5 separate regions of the Homo sapiens genome follow, and all the other regions are linked to region 2. Evidence: fine-mapped expression QTL. A gene starts in region 2. Each other region holds a variant in brackets. All regions are shown on one strand. Distances are between the middles of the regions. Region 1 overlaps ZNF284 (zinc finger protein 284). Region 2 holds the start of ZNF226 (zinc finger protein 226). Region 3 overlaps ZNF223 (zinc finger protein 223). Region 4 has its middle 14 kb from the start of ZNF112. Region 5 holds the start of ZNF227 (zinc finger protein 227).

Region 1 (6,431 bases), 87 kb after region 2:
GACTCTAAATGCAGCATCCTGGGCTGCACATATATAGGTTTCAATGAATCTTGCCAGTTGCTCCAGCAACATTTAGCAATTCAGTCTTAACTTTGTTTGACAATGCCCAGGGTTCTCGTACTTGAACCCTGGATGTAATCATTTTTCTTTCTTTCTTTTTATTTTTTGAGACAGAGTCTCACTCTGTCGCCCAGGCTGGAGTGCAGTGGTGCGATTTCAGCTCACTGCAACCCCTGCCTCCTGGATTCAAGCAATTCTCCTGCCTCAGCCTCCTGAATAGCTGGGATTATAGGCACCTGCCACCATGCCCAGCTAATTTTGTATTTTTAGTAGAGACCATGTTGGCCAGGCTGGTCACGAACTCCCGACCTCAGGCGATTTGCCGGCCTCGGCCTCCCAAAGCGCTGGGATTACAGGCATGAGCCACCACACCCGGCCCATTTTTTTTTTAATATCTGCCAAACTAACAAGTTTACAGTGACCTGTGTGGGACAGCCATGGAGTGGGTCCTCTGTATTCAAGACGCAAACTACATATATTAATTGCAGCACTGAATGTCATGATCTGGAGCCAGTGTGCCTATGATCACACTGAGTGTGTGTGCTCACTCACAAGGCTCAATCCCAAGGCTCTGTGCCTTTGCCTTCCCAGCCACGTGACCTTGGATAAGTTTGCCTACATGCATTCGTTTCCTTTCTGTATAAAGACTGTCACATCAGTTTTCTCCAGGAATAAGCAAGAGAATATAAATGGGGAAAGTCTGTGGCACAGACTAGGTATTTAATTAACATTAGTTAATTTTATTACCTTTTTGTCTTTTTTTTGAGACGGAGTTTCGCTCTTGTTGCCCAGGCTGGAGTGCAATGGCGCAAACTCAGCTCACGGCAACCTCCACCTCCCCAGTTCAAGCAATTCTCCTGCCCCAGCCTCCTGAATAGCTGGGATTACAAGCATGCGCCACCATGCCCAGCTAGTTTTGTATTTTTAGTAGAGATGGGGTTTCTCTTTTTTTGCTGTTTTTTGTTTTGTTTTGTTTTGTTTTTTTTGAGATGGAGTCTCACTCTGTCCCCAGGCTGGAGTGCAGTGGTGCAATCTCAGCTAACGCAAGCTCCGCCTCCTGGGTTCACACCATTCTCCTGCCTCAGCCTCCCGAGTAGCTGGGACTACAGGCGCCCACCACCACACCCGGCTAATGTTTTGTATTTTTAGTAGAGACAGGGTTGCATCATGTTAGCCAGGATGGTCTCGATCTCCTCACCTCGTGATCCGCCTGCCTTGGCCTCCCAAAGTGCTGGGATTACAGGCATGAGCCACCACACCCGGTGGAGATGGGGTTTCTCCATGTTGGTCAGGCTGGTCTCAAACTCCCGACCTCAGGTGATCTGCCCACCTCAGCCCCGCAAAGTGCTGGGAATATGGGCGTGAGCCACCGCACCTGGCTGGTAATGTCCTTTATTCGTATTTCTTTGGATTTTTTATTATAACTTTCATTATAGTTATCTATTTCATTTCATGTCTGCATACTATTACAGGGAACTGATGATCTATCTTTATTCTAAATAATGAATATTTAATTTTATGTAGTTTTCATTAATACCAATCCTGCAAAGAAAATCATGTATGTGGACCTTACTCTCCCGTCTGATCATTGAAAATAATTTTGGCCAGGTATGGTGGCTCATGCCTGTAATCCCAGCACTTTTGGAGGCCGAGACAAGCAAATCATTTGACCTCTGGAGTTCGAGACCAGCCTTGGCAACATAGCAAAACTCCGTCTCTACAAAATATACAAAAATTAGCCGAGCATGGTGGCACGTGACTATAATCCCAGACACTTGGGAGGCTGATACAGAAGAATCGTTTGAACCCAGGAGGCGGAGGTTGTAGTGAGCCAAGATTGCGCCACTGCACTCCAGCCTGGGCAACACAGCAAGACTCTATTTCAAAAAAGAAATAAAATAAAATAATAATTTAGTTTAATTTAATAATTTCAAACCAGGTGCAGTGATTCACACCTGTAATCCCAGTGCTTTAAGAGGCTAAGGTGGGGGGATTGCTTGAATTCAAGAGTTCAAGACCAGACCAGGCAACACAGCAAGACACCAACTTTATAAATTTTTAAAACTAGCCAGGCATCGTGGTGCGTGCCCGTAGTCCTAGCTACTTGGGAGGCTGGGGCAGGAAGATCTGGACCCCAGGGGTTCAAGGCTGCAGTGGGCTACACTTACATCACTGTACTCTATCCGAGGCAACAGAGCAAAACTCTGTCTCTAAAGAATAAGAATAAACTATAATACAATAATTTCAAATGAAAATTAAAGTGTCAAAAAATAAGAATGTTTAAAATTGTGATCATATATGTCAGATCTCAATTTTTTCTCAAACTCCAAAATCTTTCAAGGGGATATATTACCCTGGTTTTTCTTAAAATAGCCAAAAGCAGATTATCAAATTTCCTGTGATTTTGATAATCTCATTAGAGAGAATTCACCTTATTAATCCCATGTATTTGAATATAAATAATACTATCACCTTTTCAAATATGTATTGGCCACTTCTATTTCTTCTCTAAAATTTACCAATTAATGTATTAATGTCCTTTATTCATATTCCTTTGAATTTTTTTCTCCATTCTGTACATAAGATTCTTATTTTGGATTATGTCTTTTTTAGATATCAAAGTGGTAAATATTTTCACCTTAGGCTGTTATATTCCCTGGTAACACTCTATAAGCCATCTTTGCCATTAGGAATTTAAAGATTTTCTATAGTGAGTGTAGCAATCACTGTCCTTTGGTGCCTGGAGTACTAGGTGCACCTGAGGAGGTGGCACAACAGGAAGAGAAGAGGACCCCCGAGGAGGGGTCAGGGAGGAGCTATGTCACCAGTGGTTGTCATCACTCAAGAGGGCACTCCAGACACCCATACCAGAAGGCATAGGTCCTTCAATGGAGAATCCTCTTTCTTCTTCTCTCTCTCTTTCAATTTAGCAAAATAGCTAACATGC[C/T]GACCCTAGGTTTCCTCTCTGAACCTCAGCAGGTTTCTCATATTTCACATATTTAAGAGGAAGATGAGGCTGAGAACTGCATCATTCAGCTGTTCTGAGGAACAAACAAAGGAATAGAACACAGTGACTAGAGAATCTTCTGATATCATGGACATTTGAAACTAAAGCTACCAAAACTAAAAAACTAAAAAAAAAAAAAAAAAAAAAAAAGACAGAAAAATGATTACATCCAGGGTTCAAGTACGAGAACCCTGGGCATTATCAAACAAAGTTGAGACTGAATTGCTAAATGTTGCTGGAGCAACTGGCAAGATTCACCGAAACCGATATATGTGCAGCCCAGGATGCTGCATTTTGGTCAAACTCCTTAATACATAAAGGAATAAGAAAAGACCAGTAAATAACATACACACAATGCATGACTTAAGCATGGGGAAAACAAAAGCTAGCTCTTCCTATGTGAAAATCTCCAGAAATCCTTGTGTGAAGCCACAGTTACAGCCTGCTGTGCCATGCCACATATGGATATTTTATCTACAAAACAACCAACGTGGCACATGTCAAAAGTACTCTTTCAAAACTGAGCTCCTAGTGCCTGTGAGTATAAAGTAGTTAAAAAGAAACATCGGCAGGTGCAGTGGTGCACACCTGTAATCCCAGCACTTTGGGAGGCTGAGGCAGGCAGACCACTTGAGGCCGGGAGTTCAAGACCAGCCTGGCCAACATGGTGAAACCCCGTCTCTACTAAAAATACATATATTAGCCAAGTGTGGTGGTGAGCGCCTGTAATCCCAGCTACTTGAGAGGCTGGGGCAGGAGAATCGCTTGAACCCGGGAGGCGGAGGTTGCAGTGAGCCGAGATTGCGCCACCACACTCCAGTCTGGGCAACAGAGCAAGGCTCTGTCTCGAGGAAAAAAAAAAAAAAAGGAGCATCAATTCAATGGGAACATGATGCAACCATAAATAATGAATATTACATAATATTAAACACAAAGAACACAATTTAAATTAGATAAGTATCAATACAAATACAGTTATGAATATACATGAGGAATAGCATGAGAAAATAAAAATGCCTAATTAGTGAGAAAAGATGTAGTGAAATGGGAGAATTGTTCCTTCCCACTAAATTTCTACTCATAACATAAATAATGGTAAAAGTAAACAAAATCAAATCCAAACGCAAATTCAACACAAAAGAAACAAGGAAGCATCTGGCACACAACAGGTGCACAAATAACTGTTGTTCTCCTTGAGTCTTCCCAAGACCGAGAAAAACATGTGACAATCTTAAGTAGCAAAACAGAATCTGAACAGCAAAAGAGACCAGACTTACTCACCTTGAACATGGTCATTTTTCCTCCTTCTTTGGGGAATTTGCAGAGTTCTCAGTTATGCAGTTCAAGAGAAGACAGAATTGTGCCTGAAACATGCCATGGAAGGCAAAAAAAAAAAAAGAGACATGAAGGGGTGGTCAGTGATGCCACCCAACAGTATGAACATGTGTTGTGAATTAGCACTTGAATGTTCACAGGGGCATTATTCATAATAACCCAAAATTGCACACAACCAAAATGCCTTCCTATGGGTAAATGGACAAATTGTCGCCTATCCATACAATGAAATCTTACTTGGAAATTTAAAGAAATGAAATATTGACTCATGCTACAACATGCATGAACCCTGGAAACATTATGTTAAATGAAAGAAGGCAGTCACAAAAACCCATGGACTGTGTGATCGCATTTATATGAAATGTTCAGAATAGGCAAATGTATCATAGAGAAAGTAGATTAGTGGTTGCTTCACATTTGAGATGAGAATGAGGTTTAACTATAAATGGGCACAAGGAGTCCAACTGGGAGATAAAAATGATCTAAACTGAATCATGATCATGGTTATTCCACTTCACAAAATTCCTAAAAATCACGGAGTTCCATGCCTGAAATGGGTGAAAGCTATATGTGAAATACATCTTGATAGAATTGGAAAAAATAATTGTTAATCTACATGTCATTGAAATCAGTAAGACTGAATTCTGAGTCCATATCAATAGAATATTTATAGTTGAATGAAGGAATGAATAAATGGGGGAGAAATGGAAACTCTTCTTTACAGTAGAATGTCCACTAATCATGTATCTCCCCATAAGGAACTTTATTATTTTCAAAATTTAAAAAAAGTAACTTCACAGTGGACAAATCTGAAAGACTTCATCTTGGCCAAGTGAACAAAGTTGAGATCACCAGTGAAGGGACAAACCAACATCATTTGGACACTGTTAGGTTGCAATGAAAAGGACATCTCACCACTACTATGGTATCCCTGCCAATCATGCATACTCTAAACGTAAACATGAAATTTACCAGACAAACCCCAAATGAATGTCTTTCTGCAAAACAACTTGCCTATACTCTTCAAAAAACCATGCATATAAAAGACAAAGGCTGTGGAATCCTTCTAGATTAAACAAAAGTATAGAAATGTGACAATAAAGACAATGCATAAAATTGGACTTTGAATGGGGTTACAGGTAAAAAGTGGGGCAAGGGATAGTTATAAGGACCAAAAGAAGAAACTGAATAAATTTAAATATGGAAGCTGCAGATTAGATAACAACGTTATGTAATATGGTATCCAACACTATCTAATAAATGACACTACAACTACTATTATTAGCTTTTTAACAGATGTGATATGTAATAGATAACAATATTATTTAATATAATATTTAATTATTTTTTTGAGACAGAGTCTCACTCTGTCATCCAGATCAGAGTGCAGGGGCGCCATCTCAGCTCACTGCAGCCTCTGCCTCCCAGGTTCAAATGATTCTTATGCGTCAGCCTCCCTAATAGCTGGGATTACAGGCGCACGCCCCCTCAAATTTTAAAAAAGTAACTTCACAGTGGACAAATCAGCTAATTTTTGTATTTTTAGTAGAGATGGGGTTTCTCCATGTTGGCCAGGCTGGTCTTGAACTCCTGGCCTCAAGTGATCCACCTGCCTCGGCCTCCCAAAGTGCTACAATTACAGACATAAGCCACCATGCCTAGCCAGTATAATATCTAATAGTATCTAGCATGTTATGTGAAACCCTATAACCAGCCCTTTCTAAACACCTCTTACCAAGACACCCCACAATTATCTTGAAATGTGGGCTTCTTTGCTGCAGAAAGCTACAAGCAACTGTCTCTGGCTACAGGTATGTTCCTGGTGGTATCTGGGTGATCAGCAAGAACAAAGCAAACAGGAAAAATGTAAACATTTGGCAAATTTGGGTAAAGAGTATATGAGAATTTCTAACACTATTTTTGCAATTTTTCTATAGGTTTCAAATGATATGAAAATAAAACGTTAAATATTTTTTTTTTTTGAGACCGGGAGGCAGAGGATGCAGTTTCGCTCTTGTTGCCCAGGCTG
Region 2 (6,431 bases):
CAACCAGAACCTGGTGTTTCCAATTTATCAACAAGAATGAGACAGGTCTACTCAGTGATCATGGTGAAAAAGAAAAAAACAAAACAGCTTGTAACACAGAGAGAAATACATCCTACATTGATAAAAATAGCCAAATAATTGCCTCTTCCATCTAACATGACCACTTTGTTATCAGTGACAACTCCAGTCTTGTTATTTCCCCACCTCCAACATAAAAATTACAATAGTCTGATCAAATTACTACTGCTTCTTCACAGCATCCAATCCAGAACAAACCCATTGCCTAAAACTCTCCCCAACTCATCTAACATAAACCAAAACCCTATAACCAGGGTCCTCCTAATTGCCTCTTACCAAGACACCCCATGCATGTGTGGGCTCCTTGGATGCAGCAAGCTAAAACAAACAATTGTTGTTGGTTACAGGTATGTTCCTGGTGATGGCTGATGGTCATCAACAGAGCACACAGGGAAAACATAACATAACAAACAAACGTAACAACTGGTGAATCTGGGTGTAGAGTATATGAGATTTCCTTACGTTATCATTTTTGCAGCTTTTCTACAAGTTTGAAATTATATTTTTAAAAAAAGTTGGCTGGGCACGGTGGCTCATGCCCATAATCCCAACACTTTGGGAGGCCGAGGTGGGTGGATCACCTGAGGTCAGGAGTTCGAGACCAGCCTGGCAAACATGGTGGAACCCCATCGCTACTAAAAATACAAAAAAATTAGCCGGTGTGGTGGCGGGTGCCTGTAATCTCAGATGTTTGGGAGGTTGAGGCAGGAGAATCTTTTGAACCTGGGAGGCGGAGGTTGCAGTGAGCCGAGATCACGCCATTGCACTCCAGCCTGGGCAACAAAAGTGAAACTCTGCCTCAAAAAAAAAAAAAAAAAAAAAGTTAAAGAAATTAGGAAAGTCATTAATCAGAATAATAACGATGACGAGATGATGACAACTATGGCAATAATATCTAACGTTAATTAACAATAAATAGGTAGCTGATCTTCCCACTTCAGGCAGAAGGCCTCCAGTACAAAAGATGGGAAGGAATCTACTCCCCAAAGCCTGGGAGAAATAGATCTTCAGGACTCTGAGTTTCTCCATTTTGACTCTAGACTTGACAGCTGCCTTCTACTCATGTCATGGTTTTTGCAAAGAAACTTGACAGTTAATATTTAGTGGGAAAGAAAAATCACTGGACTGAGTAGGGTTCTAGTATGGCCAGCTCAGTTTTATCTGTGACATCTGGCAGGGTCAGTTTTCTAGTCCTGAGTTTCCAGATAAGACCTTTTCCTGAGCTTCTCAAACTTTAACATGCATCTCGCTCACCTTGGGATCTTGTTGAAATGCAGATTTCTGGGTCCTATCTGCAAAAATGCTAAATCAGAAGGCCTTCGGTAGGGCTCAAGAATGAGCCTTTCTACCTGGGTGATGCCAATGTTGCTGCTTTGTGAACCACAGTTTGAGTAGTGTTGCACTGTACTCAGTCCCTCTCCCAAAACAGCCCCTAATAAACAGAAATATATACAAGAAAAACTTGACAGAAAGGCACTAAACTATAGTTGTTATCTTTATACCCTAAGGTCATGGGGAATTTACATTTTTTAAATGTATTTCTGTGTTTTCCATGATTATGTGTTACCTCTATATTATTTGAAACAAATAAAACTAATAATTGAGAAAACTATTTTTAAAAACTCTTTTCTTTTTTTGAGACAGAGTCTTGCTCAGTTGCCGAGGCTGGAGTGCACCGGTGTGATCTCAGCTTACTGCAGCCTCGCCTCCTGGGTTCAAGCGATTCTCCTGCCCCAGCTTCCCAAACTCCTGGGATTACAGGTGTTGGCCACCACGCCTGGCTAATTTTTGTATTTTTAGTAGAGATGGGGTTTCGCCATGTTGGCCAGACTGGTCTCAAACTCCTGGCCTCAAGTGATCTGCCCGCCTCAGACTCCCAAAGTGCTGGGATTACAGGCGTCAGCCACTGTGCCCAGCCACTATTTTTTAAAAGTCATAGAATAGCCCAGACCTTGAGCAAAGTCCCCACAGTGAAGTCCCAACCTATTTTCACATGATACTAGCCAGCTGCCTATGGCTCATGCAGAACATACCAAAGAAGACTCAGGTCTAGACTCAGACTGCCTCGGTTTCAATGCTAGCTCTGCCTCCTACTAGCTAGGTGGCTATGAGCAAACAAGTTATGTTCTTATGTCTCAGTCTCCTCGGAAAAAGAGTATCACTTCACAGAGCCACTGTATAGTGGAAAGGTGTTCATTTGTATAAACCCCTTAGAATGGAACTTAGCAACTAACGCTAAATTATAATCACTTCTCATGCCCAAATACATGACCCCACACATTCTCTGATTTATGTGAATAAAACAAGAATAACAACAAGTCTTACTCACATGGGGTTCTGCTGCCTCCTCCTCTGTGCAGTGCTTTTTGAGAAGTCAGGGCTGGGGAAGAAAAACAGGCTATGAAGTAACCAGGATTGTGTCTTCATCCCGGATACATCACAGTGGCATCTCCCAGGACCAGTTAGAAGCAACCCTCTCCTTCCTCAAAAGAGGTCAGGGACAATCCAGCTTCATGGACTCACAGAATTTCGCCACAGAACGGGAGTTTCTAGGAAAATTACAGTAGTATTGGTAATTCACGTGCCAGGCAGTTTTACACTTTTTGTATTACCTCGTTTTCTCTCAAAACATTCTATTAGGAAGTTTTTGCTTTTATTTTCCTTCAGAACAGCAAACGAAGGCACGGGGATTAACTAACTCGCTCAATGTGATACTGTATGAAGTGGTAGGGCTGGCTCATTAGGTGGGGGAGTCACAATGAGGGAGCGAACAGCCCGAGAGACCTTCAAACCCGACGAAGCATCACCCCAGCCGCCCGAAGCCAGTACGCCCCCAATTCTAACAAGCTCCGCCCAGGGAAACGCAAAACAGCATCCTGGCCCCTCAAACCTCCGCTCTTAGCCGCTACTCCTTTTTTTCCCCAAACAAAAGACCGCTAGCTGCTGACCACAAGTGCATTTCGGGGAAGTTTGAAAGGTTCCTGAGAAGCTGACCTGAATCACCAAAGCCAGGGAAAAGATGGCTGCTACGTCGTCTTCCTGGGCGGAAGTGCCTGCGAGTATCAGGAGGACCTGGACTACGCTTCCCAGAATTCCACAGCACTGCCTTCCTCGAGCCGGAAGTGCCTACAACTACCTAGAACGATTGGACCTACAGTTCCCAGGATTCCGCAGGGGAAACATTTACAGCCTTACTGCAGCTGAGCTATGCGCGACTACACGGAACTCCGGACTACATATCACAGAATGCTGGAGTTGGGGGAAAAACAGAACAGTACCGCCCTCCTGGACTACACTTCCGGAATGTCCAAGCCTTCTGATGTGGAAGTGTCCAACTACCTTGAGCTCCTGGTTTTCATTTCCCAGAATCCCTCACTTCTCTTTAGGTATTATTATGGTCTGAGTGTTTATGGCCCCCACCAAATTCGTATGTTTAAATCCTAACTCCCAAGAAGATATTAGGAGGTGGAACCTATGGGACGTGATCAGATCAAGAGGGCAATGCCCTCATGAATAGGATTAATGCTCTCTTATAAGTGGCCTGAGGGAGCTCCTTTGCCTCTTTAGTTATGTGAGGACACAGCCAGAAGGACCATGTATGACTTAGAAAGCGGGACCTCACCAGACACTGAATCTGCTGGCACCCGATCTGGGGCTTATGTGCCAGCAATTTCACTCCTAAGTAAATACCCAGGAGAACTGAAAGATATCCACACAAAAACTTGTTCTAAAAAAGTTCATAGCAGCATTAGTCATAATAGTCAAAAAGTGGAGAAGACCCAATGTCCATCAGCTGATGAGTGGATAAACAAAATGTGGTCTAGCCATATAATGCAATATTATTTAGTAATGTGAATGAACAAAATATTGATTCATGTTATAACATAGATGAACTCTGAAGACATTATGTCCAATGAAAGAAGCCAGACACAAGATACCATATATGGTATGATTCCATTTATATCAAATGTGCAGAATAGGCAAGTCCATAGAGACAGAAAGTAAATTAGTTGTCTCCAAGGCTGGGGAGATGTAGTTGGGAATGGGGAGTGACTGTCAATATGTAGGGTTTTTTTTTTCTTACTTTTTTAGAGACAGCGTCTTGTTATGTTTCCCAGAATGGAGTACAGTGGCTATTCACAGGCATGATCATAGCACACTGCAGCCTTAAATTCTTGGGCTCAAGTGATCCTCCCGCCTCAGCCCCCTGGGTAGTTGAGACTACAGGCATGCACCACCACACCCAGCTCATGTAGGGGATTTCTTTTGGGAGCAGATGAAAGAGTTCTAGGATTAGATAGTGGTAATCATTACATAATATTGTGGATCTTTTCAAAGATAGAAAAATGTTATGTGACAATATCCCCTAAAGCGTTAAAATGTAGCTAAACTCAAAGCTAAGACAGGGAAATCCCAACGGCCAAAGATGAACAGGCAAGTTAGGCCCACAGATGAAAAAACTGAATGATCCCACAAGGGCTGGGCATACTAGGTAAGAGCTAAGGAATTAATCTTGTGTGTGAATGGGAGTTAGAGTAGCCATGCATTTTGGGAGACATGAACTATACAATATTACAAATGAAACAGTTCTCTCCTCTTGACTGTGAACAAACAACAACCAACCAAAAACAAAGCCAGATAGCTCCCAGCTTCTACAGCTGTCTTGTGACTAACCTGAAAACTCTGGTCATGAGGAGGGTAGATGTAGACTGTACCTACAGTCTTATCAGTTATGGGGCAGAGGGGCAAGAAATTATTTGGTTTAGTCTACTGGTTTTGGTTACAAATTACCTTGAAGGAAGATGACCTAATGTGGTATCTGGTGATACAAAGAAAGAAAAAGAAAGAAAAGAATATAGGTACTGGATTTCTGAAGCCCTTTGTTCAGAAAAGAGTTAACATAGGCCTGAGACTGTTGTACTTAAAAGGCCTGCTTGCAACATGCTATAGTTTGATGGTGTTCCCTTGTTAAAACTTAATCCCTTCTTGCTTTTTCATCACTTCCACCATATGAGGACATAGCATCTGTCTCCTCCAGAGGATGCAGCAACTGGATGCCATATTGGAAGCAGACAGCAGCAGCCCTCACCAGATGTTAAACCTGCCAGCATCTTGACCTTGGACTTCCCAGCCTCAAGCACTATGACAGATAAATTTATATTGTTTATAAATTACCTAATCTGTGGTATTCTGTTATAGCAGCGCAAGATATAAGGTTAGCCCTTGACTGGTATCTGGGAACTTGAATTTCAGGAGGATTTCCACAATTCTCTGATGAGAGTGGCTCACCATGCCCCGGCTATTTGTATAATGTGATTTATGCTGAATTCCTTCTGGGAATCTAGAATTTTGGCCCAAGCTGGCCTATGTGACCAGTTCCAAAACAAAACACAACGTAGTGCCTAGGGCACTAAGTCTCCATTGAGCTTACTGGGTAGACATTTCACATGTTTCAATGCTGAAAAAACAGTACATCATGAATGATTCTACAGGGAGTGGATTATTGGAAGCCTGTACCTGATTTCTTCTGGACTTCATCCCATGCACATTTTCCCTTTGCTCAACTGACTTGGTATCTTTTACTACAATAAATCATAGTGACTATGATAACATAGGGTGTCTTGAGTCCTCCTAGTGAATTACAAGAATGTGAAGGTGGTATTATCAATCCCCAGCATACCATGCACATTGAGGTAGCATGGACCTTAATGAGTAGCAAGCATCCAGTGAAGGTATACTGAAGAAAATCAATAGTGGAAAAAAGTCTCCCCAGTTAGATATAATTTATTGAGTAAAGCCCTTTAATCCAGCAGTTCACAACCTTTTTGGCACAGGGGACCAGCTTTGCAGAAGACAATATTTTTCCACAAGGTGAGGTGGGGGGATGGGGATGGTTTGGGGATGATTCAAGCACATTACATTTATCATTTTATTTTCACAAGGAGCGAGCAACTTAGATCCTTTCTTTAAAAAAAAAAAAAGAGTTTCGCTCTTGTTGCCCAGGCTGGAGTGCAATGGCGCAACCTCGGCTCACTGCAACTTCTATCTCCTGCGTTCAAGTGATTCTCCTGCCTCAGTCTCCCAAGTAGCTGGGATTACAGGCACCTGCCACCATGCCTGGCTAATTTTTGTATTTTTAGTACAGATGGGGTTTCACTATATTGGCCAGGCTGGTTTCCAACTCGTGACCTCAGGTGATCCGCCCACCTCAGCCTCCCAAAGTGCTGAGATTAAAGGCATGAGCCACTGCGCCTGGCTGCAACCTAGATCCTTCACATGCGTAGTTCACAATAGGGTTCATGCCACTGATCTGACAGAAGGCAGAACTCAGCTTTGCTCACTTGCCCACTGCT
Region 3 (6,431 bases), 100 kb after region 2:
TACCCCATAAATATGTACAACACTTACGTGTCATTTAAAAATAATGATAAAATTATATCAAGATTCAAGCGCCTCTTGTAGCGCTTCCCACAGTCTTCACATTTGGATGGATTTTCTCCACTGTGGTTTTTTTGTTGGTCTTTACGGTATGACCGGTATACAAGCTTCTTTCCACAATCCTCACATTTGAATGGTTTTTTTCGGCAATGGAGTCTCTTATGATTCAAAATACTTGAGGCCTGTCTAAAGCTCTTCCCACAGTCATCACAGTTATAAGGTCTCTCTCCTGTGTGGGCTCTATGGTGCAAGTCAAGACCTGACTTAGTAATGTAGCTCTTCCCACACTTGTCACATTTGTATGGCTTTTCTCCAGTGTGGACTCGCTGATGGATCAAAAGATAGGAGGACCGTCTGAAGCTCTTCCCACATTCTTTACAATTATATGGTTTCTCTCCTGTGTGGATCGTCTGATGCTTACACAAATCCAGCCTACGAATGAAGCCTTTTCCATATTCCCCAGTGCTGTTTGGTTTCTTTCCTGTGTGGACCACACAATGCCTATTAAGACTTGACCTAAGACGGAAGCTCACACTACATATCTCACATTTGAATGGCTTCTCCCCTGTGTGAATTCTCTGATGTTTCTGAAGCTGGAAATCATGAATGAAGGCCCTCCCACATGCCTCACAATTATAATGTTTCTCTCCCATGTGTAATTTGCAATGAACTGTAAGTGCTGATCTACATCTGAAGCCTCTCCCACATTGTTCACATTTGAAAGGTTTCTCTCCAGTATGGACTCTCTGATGAGTTTGCAGATGTAAACTCTGACTGAATTCCTTACCACACACGTCACACTTAAAGAGTTTCTCTCCCAGGTGGACTCTCTGATGAATATGAAGCGCTGAGATGTAACAGAAGCTTTTTCCACACTCATCACAGGAATGAGACTTCTCTGCTGAGCGTATTTGCTGAGGAAGATCAAAGATGGACATATCACTGAAGGATTGTTTACACTTCCCACAATTGGAAGGTTTCTGTCCTGTGTGCATTATAGATAGTCCTTCCTCAACCTGGGAGTGGGCATCACCCTGTTCAAAGAACTGAGAGCTCTTTATGGTAGAGTCTTGAGGCCTGGTTAAATCACTTGCAATTTCTTCCCAGATCTGCTGGCAGGACCACCCTTCATGTGGTCCTGCTTCTGGAAAAGTCTTCATCTCAGGTTGGATCTTGCCTCCTATCAGAATACAAAATTAAGAGATCAGGACAAGCTATGCCCTGTTCAGTGTTTTTAAGAGTTCACACTTAGGACATGGTATGAAACTTCAACGAATGTTCAGTTTGTGTTTTCCAAGTGCACCCTGGTTTCTGGTTTGCATGAGAGTAATCTAAAACCATACCATGTCACTGGGGACGGTGGCTCACACCCATAATCCCAGCACTTTGGGAGACCAAGGCACTTTGGGAAGCTGAGGCAGGCAGATCACTTGAGGTCAGGAATTCGGGACCAGCCTGACCAACATAGTGAAACCCCGTCTCTATTAAAAATACAAAAATCAGCTAGGTGTGGTGGCACACACCTATAATCCCAGATACTTGGGAGGCTGAGGCAGGAGAATTGCTTGAACCCAGGAGGCGCAGGTTGCAGCAAGCCGAGATCGTGCCACTGCACTCCAGCCTGGGCGACACAGTGAGACTCTGCCTCAAAAAAAAAAAAAAAAAAGAAAAGAAAGAAAAAAACATACCACATTTCAAATAAAAAATCATTGATAGAAATAAAAGGTTTAATAAAAAATTAATATGACACATACATTTAACCTGTTACTGTTTTTAAAATTTCCAACTCAGTCTGAAATTTTACATGATAAATTACTAAACTATTATGTACGTAATGAAATATGAATCAAAAGGAACTCTAAGGGAAAGCAGTAACATAATAAATACTTCGTATATTTGCCTGTATATTATATATCCTTATAAAGAAGTTAACCTTCCTTTCAGTTTAAGATGGCTTAAAAAACATTTTTAAAAATAAGAAAAGGAGTTAACCTAACTAAAAAGAGGTCAGGACTTTGTCCTCAGTATCTGAGAGGTAATCTGTAGAATCTTGAAGGGGCATGCCTGAGGAGAGTCTCTCTGTTTGCTTGGGGGCAAATCTTGGGTAACTCTTGACAGTGAAATAATATAATTTAGGGTTGTGACTAGCCACAGCTTTGGGGGATGGGAAATGGCAGGTGGCATTCCCCATGTCAGAAAAAATAACGATGTGATTTAATGTAGGTCTTTAGGTCACAGGGAACCAGTGGACCAAAAGACTAAATAACCACACAGGAATCAACCAACCAATTATGGCTATGTAATGGAGCCCCAATAATTACTTGGATCCCAGCACTCAGTTGAGTTTCCCTGATTGGTGGTTCCTTGTGTCTAAGTCACATGCTAATTTTGGGTATGTAACATGCCCGACTCTACTGTGAGAATACAATAGGAGATCCACATTTGGTACTTCACTGGACTCTGTCTTATTTGGTTTTTCCCCCTTGGTTAACTATAATATGCATCTTTTGCTTGTAAAAATCAGTAACTGTGAGAATAAATACATCCAGTGAGTTCTGAGGGTCTTTCTAGGAAATTATTGAATGTGAAGGTAGTTTTGAAAAACTGCCGAATTTGCACTTGGAGTGAAGTGAGAGCAGTTCTCTGTAAAATGTCCCATTAAACTTTTTAGTTTAACCCTTCATGATACTAAACATCAAACACCTTAGAATGTTTATATCTACAAATCGAAAGTATTCCTATACAAGAATTTTGCATGACACATATAAAATACTTAATCTTATTTTTCTGTTTTGATATGGATGATAAGTTGGTTATCTGAAAGAGTACAGAGACAGACAACTGCAGTTCTGAGGGGAATCTGAAAGGCTGTCCTTCCAGAGGTCCACAAAGGAGGATGCTCTTCATCAGACAATCAATGATGTGAAGAATCACTTGGAATGAAAAGAAAGCCTATGATGTAGATAAACAGGCCTTTTTAACTGTTTTTATATTCAAGACTACACATCAGTGAGCTGAAATAAAGTTAAAACCTTCAATAGACATTTATAGAAAGGAGCCAGAATGAAAATTATCACAGTGTGGAGACAAGCAGGAAAGGTGTCGTTACATGAAATGTCAGCT[A/G]AAGTCACTCACATACACCTACATGCATGAAAACTGTCCAGGTTATACTGAAAGAGGTGTTTCTTATTATGGTTCATGCTCACAAAATGTTCAAAACTTTGTCAGGATATTACCAAGTCCTGAATTAGGTAAATTTTTCTGATGGAGAGTTAAGTTCCAAAGGTTGAAACTTGGAAAATATTAATAGGTAAGTGGGTACCCATCAGTATACCTAGCCAAACTCCACCCTTAAGCCTAGAACCTCAGCCCTAAGTGAAAACAGATGACCCCATTTTTCTGCCCCAATGTTGCTTTTTTTGGCCTGCCTGCCACTATCCTGTGACCATAAAAGATTTCAGCTGGCAGAGCAACACAAGCAGCTGAGTGGCAAGGATACAAGTCGCTGAGCGGTGAGCAGAGAAGCAACTGAGTGTCGGAAAGTATGGATAGATGTGGCTAACTTCAGAAGGTGCTGCTTTGGAGAGGGGCCCAGCCACAAATGGCCTGGCTTCAGGAACATGTTGATCCCCTTCCCAGCCCCTTTCCAGCCTCCTTTTCTGCTGAGAACCACTCACCACTCAATAAAGTCTTCTGCGTTCATCACCTTTCACACAGTTCATGTGACCTGGTTCTTCCTGGATGCTGGACAAGAACCCAGGTGCCAAGAGGGCAGGGGCTGCTACCCTGATGCTCCACTGAGCTGATTGGCACTTGGCCATCCCCAGATGGCAGAGCTGAAACAGCATGGGTTGTAACATGCTTGGACACTGCTGTGGGGCGTGCATAACAGAGCCTGCTCTCGCCAGAGAGGAGCGACCAGCCAATTCCAGCATTCATTTGCTCCGGTTCCTGCACTTGCTCGCTTGCACACTCCCTCCTGCAAGGAATCGACAGCGGTGGGCTGAGTGAAACAAACCCTGAAGTTCCTGCCCGCAAAGATGGTCAAGGGAACAATCCTGTCTAATAGGTACATGGATATATTTAATACACTGTGACTTATAAATAAGAGGTCTTTAAGGAGATGGGAAGGGGTCTCAGGATGTTTCTATTTTGAGTAAGTAATTCCCCAATTCCTTCCAGGTCATAAAGCTTACTAGTTCAAAATATAGCACTAAATCTATAAAAATAAACAAAAAGCCTGTCCTTTAACTTTTTGACAATTAAATTTGCATAATGTAAAGAAAAGGGAAATACGCACATTTTTGAAGAAAGATGACCAGAAACAGAGTCAACATTCAGCTACATAACTTGTGTCCTCTCATCCTCATTCTTCCCCCTCTAAGGGAAGGAAGGAGGAACTGGAGGCAGTGAAGTGTGGGCCGACTTTGGAAAAGGCAAATGGGCTGCAGATGGGTAAATCTCTCAAAGGAAAGCTAGCTGCAAATCCTCATTCAAAAAGACTTTCTTCTCAGATATAAATATGCTCCCTATGGAAAGCTCCAGGGTAGGTCCCAGGGAAGGCATATTACTCAGTGTGGTCATGAAAAAAAAAATGCTATGCTTAGAAGTTTCCACAGGACATGGGTCAACTGCACACACATAAAACCAATCATGTCAAGGAAACCTAAGAAAGTTGAAAATGGATAAGCAGCCATCCACAGAGAAAAAAAAAATCTGTTCTGCAATATATAATCAGCCCTCCATATCCATGGGTTTGGCATCCATGGATTCAACCAACAGGACATAAAAAATATTTAGGGAAAAAAATTCCAGTTCCAAAGAGCAAAACTGGAATTTCTCACACACTGAGTCCTATGTTGAATCCTTGTGAATGAAGTGACAGGTAGGCATTGCATTTGGTATTATAACTGGTCTAGACATGATTTAAAGTATATGGGAGGATGTACATAGGTTATAGGCAAAGACTTCACATATATCAGGAACTTGAACATCTCTGGCTTTCGGTATCCATGTGGGGTCCTGAAATCAAACCCCTATGGCTTCCAAGGGACTAATATATTTCATACACTCTGGTTCATGTATTACTTATTAGCTAGCTCCATGATTCCTACAGACAGTGAAGTCCCCCCATCCATTAATTCATTCATCAGGATACCAAATATTTACAGATCCCTCCATGTACTAGGACTATTCTAGGCACTGAAGATGCAGTCATAAACAAACAGATAAACACCTTGTAGAGATTATATTTGAAAGGGAACAGGTGATCTATCAGTAAACAAAAGCATATGACACATAATACTTGCAGGCCAAGTAAAGATAGGATGGTATTTTCAATAGGGTGCTTGAAGATGACCTCTTCCATGACATTAAAACTCAGCAGACACCTGCATAAACTAACAGAGGGGGTCAGTAAGTTTTGTGGGAACAGAGGACTCCAGTCAGAGAGAAAAGCAAGTGAGGGCCCTGAGGCAGAAGCTTCTGTGGTAGGGAACATAATTGTTCCTGAAAGATGTCCACATCCAGCCTTCAGGACCTATGATTCTGACACATTACACAGCAAGGCAGATTAAGGCTGCAGATGTCATTGAAGTCACTAATCAGCTAAGCAGAAAGTAGGAAAGTCAACTTGGATCATACAGGAGTGATGAATACAACCACAAGGGACCTGAAAGGTGAAAGACATAGGCATAAGAAGAGTGGCAGAGGGAGCATGACTCTGGAAGAATGGTCAAGGATGCAATGTAGCTGCCTTCAAAGATGGAGGAATGGAAACTAGAGCCACGGAGTGTGGACAGTGTCTAGGGACTGGTAAAACAAAGTGAAGCCTTCTCCCCATGAACATCCAGAAAGGAACAAAGCCCTAAGACAGCTTGATTTTTTCCCAGTGAGATGTGTCAGACTTCAGGCCTAAAGAACAGAGAAATAATAAATGCTTCTTATTTAATCATCTAAGTTCGTGGTCATTGGGTACCAGCAACAGGTGATACAGTGTCCTTGGCAGGATGGAGAAATAAGAGGGATGACAAGGTGGCCAGAAAAGATGGAGAATGAGGGAGAGTATGGGAGATGTAGTCAAGAAGCAGTGAAAAATGAAGAGTAGACCACAGGGGTTTCTAGAAGCAACTTAAAGAGGCTTTCATAAAATTAAGAAGACAGAAAGGCTCTTAAGCTGAGGAATGACAATCTGACATCCATGTCCTAAGGATCACTTTAGCTGCCATGAGGAGAACAGATGTCAGAGTGGGAAGGCACGGAGCAGGGCCACTAGCTGGAAGGAGGTTATCATAATCCAGCAAAGATGTTTGGCCATTTAGAAGAAGGTAATGGAGTTGGACGTGCACAGAAGTAAAACAGATGGAAGTCACAAA
Region 4 (6,431 bases), 210 kb before region 2:
AGATTACAGGTATGAGCCATTGTACTCAAGTCTAGAATCTGATTTGTTATGATGGTTTCCATATTTTAATCTGTCTCTTTTTGCATATTTGCTGTTATTTATTTTTGTCTTTCTCTTCAGAGGGAAACTTGCTGAGGATTTGAATTGACTTTAGTTGAAGAGAATATGGTTTCTGTTTCAAATATTTCCAGTCCCTTCTATGAAGTATTGCAAAAACCAATAACTTGCATTTAATCTAGACTTTACATCAAATTTCTACTTTACAGAACATTTAAAAGAGCAGAGGAGAAAATATAGGGAAGGCTTTAGACAAATCCAGAATTTAGACACCTAATTTGACATTTTTATTTCCCCAACAGTTCAAGGAAATAAAAAATGGTGGTGGTGGTGCTGTGTGTGGGAGGGTCGGGGTGGGGGCATAGTTTTAGAGTAAATGACTTTCTGGTGAGATAACAATCAAATACAATGGATCAAAATGTTCGGATAATGACTGGAATAAACCAGCTGTAAAAGCATTTTCCCCCCAAAAAACAGATTCAAATTGGCATGCATATTAGATAATACTAAGATTTGTTAATTTTATCTCATAAGGTAACGGTTTTGTGGTTATGTTAAAACATCATTATTTTTAAGTGATACAGATAGTATTGGGAAGGGATAAGGCCAGGGATCTGCTTTAAAATATTTCAGTAACAAAATTCAATAGTCATAGATATTGCCTGTGTGGCAAAATGTTGGGAAGTGTTGAATTTAGGGTAGGTGCATTTGGTGTTTCATGTTATCATTTCCTTTTTTCTTTTTTTTTTATTTATTACTATTATTTTTTTTGAGACGGAGTCTCCTCTGTCGCCCAGGCTGGAGTGCAGTGGCGTGATCTCAGCTCACTGCAAGCTCCGCCTTTTTGTGTTAATATCGAAAGTTTCATTAAAAATTTTTTTTCCTGCCCAGAAGGAAAGTGGTAAGTACATACTTCCTGTAGTTTGACTTGTTATAGTTATCTGGAGTCCGTCTCCCATCTCAACCTACCCACCTCTTCCTGAATAACCATAAATTCACATGGCTTAAACTGATTTGTAGAAAAGATACGTTCATGTTAAATATATGAGGTCAACGGGCAACAGAGGAATAGCCAATTCCAAGCCTGATTTGAACTCAAAAAATTTCAAGAAAGGAGCCATTTTCCATATCATATTTTCTAAATTTCCTGCCAGTACAGCTTCCTTCATTTTTCAGATACAACTTGCTCTTTCTGTGCTTGATTTCAAGACTGATTTGTCCTTGGAATTCCTTGTGGATTCTTGTCATCTTGAAATAAATTGTCCATGCCAGATAGCATAAGCAGAGGTCTAGATGACTACAGGCACATATAAAGAGGCAACGGAGTTAAACCACGTCTGGAGATTCCATATTCCTTAAGGTTCTGTCCAGTGGACAGCCCAACTCCCTTTTAGAATCTTGTTTTTTCTCATACTCATCACTTTTCCGCTAAAGCGTGTTTCTTTTCATACTAAAGCCTTTGCTTTTATCCCCAAATAGTCATACTTTCTTTATATTTCCACATACTCGTTTTTTCTTGAGGAAAAAAAAATTACAAAAATAAAAAGTCCAAGCACTAATCGCGCCACAGAAGTGACCTTCAGTTTGAACGCACTTAACTAACAGAATGAGCTGTAGGAAGGTGGAAGCACTAGCGTGCTGGGTATTCTGGGAACTGTAGTCGGAAGTATTTTCGCCCAGGCTGGTGGAGTCCTTGTCGTCGTTCCGCTTAAACATTCTGGGAAGTGTGGGTCAGACGTTTCATATAGTCGACAACACTTCCTCTTCGGGACTACAGGGTGTGGCCCTCTGGTGTGACTCCTGACTCTGGGAAGTGAGTCGCAGGAACTTCCGCTCCAGGGAAAGTTGCGGCCATCATGCTGCATGCAAGACTTGAGCCTTAGAGACCCTTCTGCGCCTCCTCAGCCTGGGTGAGGGACCAAAGATGGTCAAGGCCCTCTGTCTTGAGGAGGAAAAGTGGCAGCCGGTGGAGGATTAGGGTTGGAAATGTTTGCGTTTCCCTCGACTCAGTAGAGCTTTCCAGTGTTACGGGAGGTTCCCGAGTCCCAGGCTGGGGAATGAGGCAGGGTCTTGCATCATTGGGTTTGATGGTTTCTTGGGTCCTGTACTCCCGTAGCCCTTCTGTTGGACCCACCAATCAGCATTGCCGCTTCCTTGGGAAGTTTTTGAAGCGTTGGAAATATTCTGCAACTTGATTGTGTTGGTAGTTACATGTCTGTACATATTTGTTAAAACTCATTGAACTATACACTTAAAAATAGTAGCCTTTATAATGTATGTACATTGCACTTCAATAAATATGGCTTTTTAAAAGTGTCTGGAACTTTTTTTTTTTTTTTAAGTGGCAGGACCTCATTACAAGTAAGTTCAGAACTAAGTTAGGACTTACCTATAATCCTACTAGCACCACCCTCATGTAACATTTTCATTTTGGTTTATTTTATACTTATGTAGAGATGTGCTTTTTATTAAATAATGTGTAAATTTTAAATTAGTATTTCAGTTAGTAATATACCATAAGTTAATTTTGCTGTTTCCCACGTTCTTCATAACGTTCATCTTTAATGATTGTGTTGTATTCTATTGAGTGAATTTGCACTTGTTAAACCTGGGCATCTGGGATGTGTTTAAAAATTATTCTCATAGTTTTATGTATATATGAAATGTTTTACAATTTAAGAGATATATACTGACTTCCATGCCTCTGGTCGTCTTTTTTGTCTATCCTACTTGGGGTATTCATTTCCATGGTCATACTATAGGCCTTAAATTAGCAATAGCTGCAATCCCTCCATAGTCTCCATTTAAGGCATTACAGTCTGCTCTACATATTCTCTTGCCAGATCTTCCTATGGTTTACTGTCATATTGACTTCATCAATTTCTACAATTCATTGATCCTACTGCATTTTCAATATCCCTTGTTCATCTCATATCCTCAATACCAACCAAATCTTTTCTCTTCTTTCT[A/G]GTATAAACAGAAGACTGACACTTACATCTAATTGTTTCAAAATATTGTCCCATGACAACCATAGACTTAAGGAACATTAAGAAAGTATTTTGATTTTCCCCCATAATTTTATAGAAGAGACATGCAGGGTCAAAGGGATTATGAATGGATGCTCTGTGAGCCAGTCAATAGCATATGTCCCAAAGGCTACAGGTTAAGTATATTACCTGGCCCAGCAGCTTTAAAATCATCTTTTGGTCTCCTACTCTAGAGAGTGAACTTCAGTTCAGGCACCAGTGATGCTATTATGTGAGGAATATTGACTTGCCTCTGTTTTTGTTTTTAAATAACATAAGATTTGGTATCAGTTATCACTTAAAAGTTATTTGTGAGACACTTTCTCAGTGTATGTGACCTTGGCTGGGAAGCATTGCTTTAGAGGTACAGAGATCAGAGACCAGATAACTTTGATAAGTCGGTATGTGCAATGGTAGAAGTATTTTAAACATGCCATGAAAGGGGATATTTCAATTCATGGCATCTATTTTGGGGGGAAAATGCTCTCAAATACTATTGGCTCAGTCAATCAGATCACTTGTTTTGGGATAGGTTTGGTAATATGACTCTATGCACTGTGCATACTCTTAGATTCAAGGGTCTCCATTCAAGGAATTTATATTATGGTAACACTCATTTAAAGATCAAGAACAAATGGACATGGGTGTTCACTAAAGCATACTTTTGTGAACCCAAAAGTATGTGAGACAGGTCTCAATGAATTTAGAACATTTAGTTTGCCAAGGTTAAGTACACACCTGTGACACAGCCTTAGGAGGTCCTGACAACATGTGCCCAAAGTGGTCAGGGCACAGCTTGATTTTATACATTTTAGGGAGAAATCAGGCATCAAACAGTATGTGTAAGTTATACATTGCTTAAGTCCAGAAAGGCAGGACAATCTCGAATGGGAGTGGGAGCTTCTATATCATAGGTAGATAAGAGACAAACAGTGGCATTATTTTGAGGCTCTGATTAGCCTTTTACTGAATACAAAACTCACAAGTGAGAGGTGGGTAGACGAATAGTGACTTAGGTCTTAATGTTGCTTAGTGAATCTGCATTACTACATAAACAATAGGGAAGAGGAAGCAATCAGATATGCATTTGTTTCAGGTGAACAGAGGAATGACTTTGAGTTCTGTCTGTCCTTTATCCCACACCTGTGAAGATAAGCTATCAATTTACATTACCAGGGTGAAATTCAACAGAAATGCTTTTGGATAAAGATGTTCAGGCCCACAAACAGGCCCCTGTGGACAAATTGTGAAGGAGGTATGTAGCTTTTTCTGCTTTACAGCTATCTTATTAAGTAATCAAATGGGAGGTTTGCCTGACACAGTTCCCAGCTTGACTTTTCCCTCTGGCTTGGTGATTTGGGGGTCCCGAGATTTATTTTTCTTTCACACTTTGCAAGACTATGGATGCTTAATAGGATGAGATTAGCAATTGAAAGAGAAAAAATTTTGATTCCTAAAGTCTTCACCCTTTCCCTCAAACTCTTTTAACCTTGTTCTTCTTCTAATGGACATTTGTGCATGATTGAGGTGTAGTATCTTAGGTGCTGTAGGAAACAGTAATATTCAAGAATGTGCTGTGATCTGCACTAAGGAGAAGGTGATGCTACTGAACAAGGCCAAAATAAACCTACCTATGGAGAAGTATTCTTGCCGAAAACGATGAAACTTAATCTCATCTGCTTTCTAAATCTAAATTGTAGTTTACCAGAGCCACAGAAGATATTCAAGAAAATGTTAACTGACAGCATAATGAAACATTTTTAAAAATCCAGAATGTGGGACATCTTACTTGACAACTGACCTGATGTCTTGTATATGCCAAAAGCATGAATTTAAAGTGGATCAAAGGGGGGATACTCTTCCAGATTGAAAGAGACTCAAGAGACAAAACGATCACATGCAAAGGATGGACATTTTTGAGATGACTGGAAATTCTGAAGTTTTGTTTTTTAGGGCATAAAATAATATTAAGGAATTATTAACTTTCTTCAGTGTGACAGTTGTATTTTTGTTATATTAGAAAATGTAATTCTTTGAAGTATGCATGGGAGTGTTTAGGGGGAAATAATACAGTGTCATGATTTTGTTTTAAAATTACAATAACAAAAAGGGCAGAAAGACAATATTGATAGATAAAGGAAGTGTGGCACATGTTGAAAATTGCTGAATCTGGGTGATGAGGCAATGGAATACTTCACTCTTTATTTCTATCAATGTTTGAAATTTTTCATAACATAAAGGTATGAAAATGTTTAGTTCTTGTCCAGAAGAAAAGTGGTAAGCAGAACCTTCGTGTATTTTTATTTGTTGGGTTTTCTGGATTTGCGTCCAACTCTCAATCGACTCACTTGAACGAAATATGGTCTCACTGGTTTTCATATTCTTCAGTTATCATTGTATTTATGATAATAAGAATAGGGTGGAAGTGGGTGATGTGATGCTTGAACTTGAACAAAAAGATATTTCAAATTTTTATATATTTATCTCTTTTCATATTATAATAATTCCTTCACATGAACACACCTCCTTTCATTCGCCTCATGAGCCACGTTTTACAATGAGCAATTAAAGTCAAGGAACACCCAAAAGCTTTTGCTGCTTCTGCTTTATACTTTAATAAACTTTGCATGACCTTCTTGTGGTTCTTGTATCATGGAATGAATAGCATATATCAGATAACACTGCCAAGAGTTCTAGATGCATCCAAAACACATGGAATAAAGTAGAAAATCCAGTCAAAGTAGGTTTGAGATCTTGTATTCCTTACATTCGTGCCCAGTTTCTAAGTTCTGCATTTTTTGCTTACACATATCTTCCCCTTTATAATCTATGCCTCCTTTTCATTTCAAACTGTGTTCTCTACTAAAGGGATTTGGGTGGGAGACAGGGTGGGAGGGGCGTTCAAATGCATTTGTTTTGTCACATGTGAAAGAAAAAAAATGAGAATAAGGAAGAAGAAGGCTGAGCTTGACCAGTGAGATAGAATGATTCGGACTGAACCTAGTTATCCAAAATAAAAAGGGAAACGCTGGTGAGAAGCACTACCTGAAGAGGATTCTGGAAACTGGTCCAAAGCATTCACAGTGTCAAAAACACTTCTGTTCCTGGAAAGGTGGCTTTAATGATTGGGCTTCTGGGGGAAATATTAAGTATAAATTAGAATCTTGTTTTTGGAGACATTTTGGTTCAAAGAGGACAGTGCTGAGTTTGCATTCTACTCTAGAACTGTGTGACATACATTCCAAATTCAAAGGGTAGTAGCCAGCCTTCCGCCAGAGAAAGGCAACGACATTGCCAATTCTTTGCGAGGATTCTGGGAGCAGTAACCTTGGAGCTCTGTGTAGGCGG
Region 5 (6,431 bases), 44 kb before region 2:
GGGAGCGCCTATTCCCAAGCACAGGCTGAAAAGGTTCAAGAGGGGTCGTGGGGGTGCAGGGCTGACTCACCTCCCGGACCCAAAAGATGGTGGCGGCCTCGCTTTCCGGGGCGGAAGTGGCTCTGCCTGCCCAGAGCTCCTGAACTACCCTTCCCAGAAGGCCCGCGCTCCTGCGGCCCAATTGTTTCCGGACAGAGTTCTGGAATACGTTTCCCAGAACTTCCAGAAGGAAAAACCATCCAGGTGCCGCCCTCTTCGCGCTTGAAAAAAAAAAAAACAAAAAAAAAAACGGAGCGAGCGAGTGAGAGAGGGTTACGGAGAGTGTGACAAAATTCTCGGAGCTCCCGGACTACAACATCCAGAATCCTCTTCACGGCTTATTGCTGTTTAGCCAGGCTGAAGCAGTTCTCTGATGTCAGTGGAATTTAGGTTTTTCTTATTAACAAAAAGTAACAGCAAATATGTGAAGAATTGGAGCCCTAAAATAAAAAAAGACTCCCAGCACTTTGGGAGGCCGAGGCGGGCGGATCACGAGGTCAGGAGTTCCAGACCAGCTTGGCCAATATGATGAAGCCCCGTCTCTACTAAAAATATAAAAATTAGCCGGGCGTGGTGGCGCGCGCCTGTAGTCCCAGCTACTTGGGAGGCTGAGGCATAAGAATCGCTTGAACCCTGGAGGGTGCAGTGAGCCAAGATCGTGCCACTGCACTCCAGCCTGGGCGACAGAGTGAGACTCTGTCTCAAAAAAAAAAAAAAGAAAAAAAAAACTATTATAAGAAACAGATCACGTGATCCTGTACTAATAGAATTATACCCACCACTTCCAAAAAAAAAAAAAAAAAGGGCAGAGGAAACCCTTTAAGTTTTTACATTTAACAGGATCGACTAATAGAAAAACTACTCTTTAGATACTAAAAGAATGAAAGAGCAATCAAAAAATGCAACGAAGGCAGAATATATTATGGATTTCCACTTTTCTTAATAGCACAGTCATATAATTCAGAACAACTTGCTTACTGAGGATAGCTAGACATAGAAAACACAAGCTTTGGCATATGGTAGATCAACTCCACAAAGCAACTAGGGCCTCTGTAATCATTCCTCAAGGAGTTTCTGAATTTGAAAGATGAACAAATTTATTACTTCAGTGTTTAAACCTTGATCTTTATTTGCTTAAATGTATAATGGAATTGATGTTTCCAAGAATTGAGGGTTGAAAGAAGAGAGCAATACCTAAAAATATCCACATATCTACTACAGTACATGTTTGCAGTTCTCATTTACTAAATATATATTCTTTATTCTGTTATATACAACTATCTCTTATAAAGAACCAAGTATGTGCCAGGAACTAGTTCAAACTATTCAGACTATGGGACCCTCACTACATTTTCACAACTTTTTTCTTTTTTTTTTTGTTCTGTTTTGTTGTTGTTGTTGTTGTTGTTGTTGTTAGACAGAGTTTGGCTCTTTTGCCCAGGCTGGAGTGAAGTGGCATGACCTCGGCTCATTGCAACCTCCGCCCTCACACAAGGTTCAAGCAAGTCTCCTGCCTCAGCCTCCCAAGTCGCTGGGGTTATAGGCACCCCCCTCCCCACCACGCCCAGCTAATTTTTGTATTTTTAGTAGAGACGGGGTTTTGCCATCTTGGCCAGGCTAGTCTTGAATTCCTGACCTCAGGTGATCCACCCGCCCCGGCCTCCCAAAGTGCTAGGATTACAGGCATGAGCCACCACACTTAGCCCATTTTCACAACTTTTTTAAAACAAATAATGTCCTCTAGTTTACTCTTTGGGATCCAGAGGCAGAGAGAGGTTAAGTATATCTCCTAAGATGGAAATTTGATTATTTTCACCTGCATGTCTATCCAGTGCCCTTAAGAGAAGGTTCAAATGCTTTAACAAGTCGCACAAACAGGAATTTTCCAGATGCTGTTTCTCTCTTGGAATCCACTTTCCACTCTACATGTCCAGCCATAGTGGATTACTTGTACTCCTACAAAAAGCCTCTAATTCTTTGTATTTGGTGTTCCTTCTGTCATAACCTGCTACTCTTTTCCCTCCTGGGTGACGGTCTTCATCCATAGCTTAAATATTCCCTGCTCTAATAAGACTTACTGTGGGTTCTTGCCTTGTAGACTAATAAAAGTAGTGTGTAGTAGCTAATATTACAGCCTTAGTATAAAGCTATCTAGATTAAAATACTAGTGCTTCCATTTCTTCTGTCCCCTTTTTCTTCATTTGTAAAATGGAGACTATAATAGGGTTGATATCAAGTACAAATGAATAAATACATGTAAAACACTGGAAATTCTGCCTGATTCATGACTACCCTATAAAAAGTTAGCAAATGTTAACCTCAGGGGATAAACACAGGACACATAAATTATGGATGGAAGGTTTCTACAAAAATTTGCTTTGATCACTAAAATATTATCAATAACCATGCATCAACTTTTGATTACTGGGAAAAAAACTAGAAGACTATGCAAATGCATCCCACCAAAAGTGAGATAAAGAGTCACTAATATTGACATTATTTCCTTTTATTTTTTCCTAAATCCATTTTGGGAATTCTGAATACAATCTAAATGATCTGCAGGTTTCCATTTCAAGATACTGGGCAGCTCCACAAACCACAAACACTAAACCCCTCCTTACCAGTCTTGTGCTGGGTGCTAAGCACATGGTAAAGAATGGGACATAGTTCCTGCAACAAAGTAACATGCAGCCTAAGGGAGAAACAGATCAGATCTAAAAGACCCTGAGTAGGCCGGACTCTGTGGCTCACGCCTGTAATCCCAGCACTTTGGGAGGCCGAGGTGGGCAGATCACGAGGTCAGGAAATCGAAACCATCCTGGCTAACACGGTGAAACCCCGTCTCTACTAAAAATACAAAAAATTAGCCGGGTGTGGTGATGGGCGCCTGTAGTCCCAGCTACTCAGGAGGCTGAGGCAGGAGAATGGCGTGAACCCGGGAGGTGGAGCTTGCAGTGAGCCGAGATCGCGCCACTGCACTCCAGCCTGGGCGACAGAGCGAGACTCCGTCTCAAAAATAAATAAATAAAAATGAATAAATAAATAAATAAATAAAAGACCCTGAGTAAAACATTCCAAATAAAGAAGCCAAATTCATAACTATTCCTTTCCAAATCTCAATGATTCCCTCTCCTTTAGGTTTTTCACATAACTACCTTCCTCCTAGTTGCCAGGAAAGAAAACCCTGAAGTTATTTGCTTTCCTTTGCTCTTCATTCATAATTACTTTATGTTAATTACTTTTAATTTCTACCGACTGACTAGGATTTGGTTTTGATTTTAAATAGTCAAATTCCTCCTCTTCCCACCAAAAACATATGTGGGAGAAGAGTAATAGATGCAATAAGATAGACAAAATGTTTA[C/T]AAGAGTTAAAGACAAATGATGGCGGGGTGGGGGTCATTAACACTATTTTCTGTATGTGCATGTTTGGGAATTTCTACAAGAAAAATTAGAGAAATACCATGTGGGTGGTATGGCACCAATGCATAAATGCATTTAAAATGTTAGCAGTGGTTATCTCTAAATCCTGAGATTATGGGTTAAAGGAACGGGGTCTCGCTGTCATCCAAGCTGGAGTGCAGTGCCGTGGTCATAGCTCACTGCAGCTTCAAACTCCTGAGCTCAAGCGATCCTCCCACCTCAGCCTCCCAAGTAGCTGGGACTATCGGTATGTGCCACCACACCCAGCTAATTGTTTAAATATACAGCAGTGAATATGGGTAACTTTCATTTCCTTTTATACATTTCTGTATTTTCTAATCTCTCTATAATGGTCATGCATTATTTCTATAAGGAGAATATAGACTCTAAAGCCCCAGATCACCTTCCAAACCTGATAGAAAAAGACTTCCACAAACCATATACACGATTATTTCATATGGTTCTAAGAAAAATGTACAGCGTGGAGAATATGAACACAGACTTGAGGCTCCAACTTCTTGGGTTCATATGGACGTTCTGCCTCTTACTAACTGTACGTTTTAGGGTTCGTCTTCCCTCTTCTTTTTCTTAGAGCATTTCCATAAGAAACCTAGTGCTTCTGAATCCTTTCTCTAACCTTTTGATACGCATGTAAATTTCATTAGCGGCTATGTAAGCCTCTAGCCAGGTTTACAACCTAGAAGTATTTGTGAAAGTTCTGAGATTTGTCCCTTTTGAATATAAACATCTGAGAAAATAACAACCCACTGTCCCTATCACTGCAAGAGTTTAACCAAGGTGCCTCTCTTTAAACTGTAAATCGGCTAGCAGATGAGGTAAGAGAAGTTTTATTACTTTCGATAAAGTTAGTTAACTAACACTGGATTCTCAAGTAAATTTAGAATAAATTTATAAAAGAATTTGCAGTAAATGATGAGACCAAGTCCTCTTATTGAAAAATCATTAATCTTGAGAACTGATGTACATAGTGGTCAAAAGTAGAATTGTATAAAAAGTTTAAAACTGCTTGACTGTACACATAGGGCGGAATTTTTTAATAATATTTTTCTTTAGATTGCCTACAATACTATACAGTGGTTGTCCTTATTCAGTAATAAGACAGCTTTCTTTTCTACATTGTGTGGAGAGGTCTATTATCTTCGTCTCTCTGTTAGAACATAAGTGGTACCTACCACATAACGGTATTTTGGACATTTAATGAATAATTCGTATAAAAGTACAAGGACCTCCTACTAATGACTCTACTTCAGGAATGAGGAGAATGGGATAGAGAAAGATTAAGATTAACTCACAAAACGTTATAACACTAGTAAGTGGCAGAGCTGGCAAGTAGGTGGGAGAGGCTGGCTGCGGAACGCCAGGAGACCCTCTAACCAAGCGACAACCGATCCAGGACGCTCCCAACCCGGGGACGCAAGAACTGCTCCAAACGTGAGGCTCAGCCGAGAGGAAAGAACACAAACTGCTCCCAACTCCAGCCTCCCAGCTGGCCACAGCTTCTCTAGCCTTCCTCCAGACGAGGGCCAGGGCCCCGCTTGCTCCCTGACGAGGCTGAGAAAACTTGGAGGGTCCCAGCGGATCCAAACACTTGTTTTCGCCCTCCTAGAGCGAAAAAACTTCCCAGCAACTAAAGAGAAACCCCGGATCACTTCCCACAATTCCCTAGCTCCGCCATCCAAAAGCGGAAGTGCCCCAGGCTACGCGGGCCCCTGACTACACTTCCCAGAATGCCCCAGGGGAAACCGGCCATAGTTCCGCTCCTTGGAGCGGAAATACTTCCGAGTAACCTGAGCTTCCGGGTATCCTAGAAAGCCAGAGCAAATCTTAGCCAAGATTTGCAATTTTAGAGTGGAAGTGTCTGTCTTGGTGGTACCTACCGATTCTGTTGTTCAAGGGCCTTGGGGAAGAAGTTGGGGATCGGGAGAAGGGTACCTAGTAAAACCCAAAGAGCTGCACTACAGGAGTAAAGATAAAGGGCAAATAGATCATCTTCACTAGGGGACTGAAGCAAAACTTGAAATCACATTCGTACCTGAAAATAGATTAAAGTAAACCTTTTCTGTTAGTGTTTGCAGGTACCTGACATAAACAAAAATATTCTAATGGAGAAAGAGACTATCGTCCTAGGCCTCATATTCTTTCTCTAATTTTAAAATATATTAATATTGGACAAAGTACAATAGTCCTTGAAGAAAAGAACATTTTAAGATATACAAAGAAACACTTCATAGTAATGAAAATTTTCTATCAACTATAACAGCCTTACATAATGTAAAGCAAACTTTATAAAGAAAAATTGATTGACAGACTCATAAGGAGAAAAACACTGATAAACAGGAGAGCTTTTAATACATGATTAGAAGGAAACATAGAAAGCCTTGAAATCATATACAGGTCCTGGAGTTAACAATGGTTCACTTAAGATTTTTCGACTTCATGATGGTGTGAAAGCAACACACATTCAGTACAGTACCTATACAACCCTTCTGTTTTTCCCTTTCAATACCTATTCAATAAATTATATGATATTCAACACTTTATTATGAAATAAGCTTCTTTTTGCTAGATAACGTTGCCCTTGGATCACCTGAGGTCAGGAGTTTGAGACCACCCTGGAGAATATGGCAAAACCCTGTCTCTACTAAAACTATGAAAATTAGTCGGGCGTGGTGGTGCGCACCTGTAGTCCCAGCTACTCTGGAGGCTGAGGCAAGAGAATCACCTGAACCTGCGAGGCGGCGGTTGCAGTGAGCCAAGATCGAGCCATTGCACTCCAGCCTGGGCGAGAGAGCGAGACTCCCTCTCAAAACAAAACAAAACAAAAAACCTTGCCCAACTGGGGGCTAATATAAACGTCATGAGCACCTTTAAGGCAGGCTAGCCTAAGCTATGATGTTTGGTAGATTGGGTGTATTAAATGCATTTTCGACTTAGGATACTTTCAACTTACG

The links.
Region 1: its variant is fine-mapped to the expression of ZNF226 in whole blood (INTERVAL, PIP above 0.99).
Region 3: its variant is fine-mapped to the expression of ZNF226 in unexposed skin (GTEx, PIP above 0.99).
Region 4: its variant is fine-mapped to the expression of ZNF226 in esophagus muscle (GTEx, PIP above 0.99).
Region 5: its variant is fine-mapped to the expression of ZNF226 in unexposed skin (GTEx, PIP above 0.99). The same link has a PIP of 0.9 or more in blood mononuclear cells and whole blood.

Annotation. Positions count from the first base shown.
Region 1 is chr19:44,074,322-44,080,752 of GRCh38, reverse strand. ZNF284 (zinc finger protein 284) reads right to left here. Exons shown (of 5, transcript NM_001037813.4): 2 at 4,349-4,431. The coding sequence starts at 4,363. Among named protein-coding and RNA genes, the nearest start is that of ZNF284, 5.4 kb to the right of the region's middle. The variant C/T (reference allele first, on the strand shown) is at 3,008.
Region 2 is chr19:44,161,784-44,168,214 of GRCh38, reverse strand. It overlaps ZNF226 (zinc finger protein 226), which reads right to left and starts at 3,115. Exons shown (of 6, transcript NM_001032373.2): 1 at 3,073-3,115; 2 at 2,408-2,458. RefSeq lists enhancers at 3,094-3,213, 3,274-3,423.
Region 3 is chr19:44,060,870-44,067,300 of GRCh38, reverse strand. ZNF223 (zinc finger protein 223) reads right to left here. Exons shown (of 5, transcript NM_013361.6): 5 at 1-1,237. The coding sequence ends at 24. Among named protein-coding and RNA genes, the nearest start is that of ZNF284, 8.1 kb to the left of the region's middle. The variant A/G (reference allele first, on the strand shown) is at 3,181.
Region 4 is chr19:44,367,322-44,373,752 of GRCh38, reverse strand. No RefSeq gene overlaps it. Among named protein-coding and RNA genes, the nearest start is that of ZNF112, 14 kb to the right of the region's middle. The variant A/G (reference allele first, on the strand shown) is at 3,027.
Region 5 is chr19:44,206,225-44,212,655 of GRCh38, reverse strand. ZNF227 (zinc finger protein 227) reads right to left here and starts at 124. Exons shown (of 6, transcript NM_182490.3): 1 at 71-124. RefSeq lists enhancers at 4,828-4,877, 4,888-4,987. The variant C/T (reference allele first, on the strand shown) is at 3,402.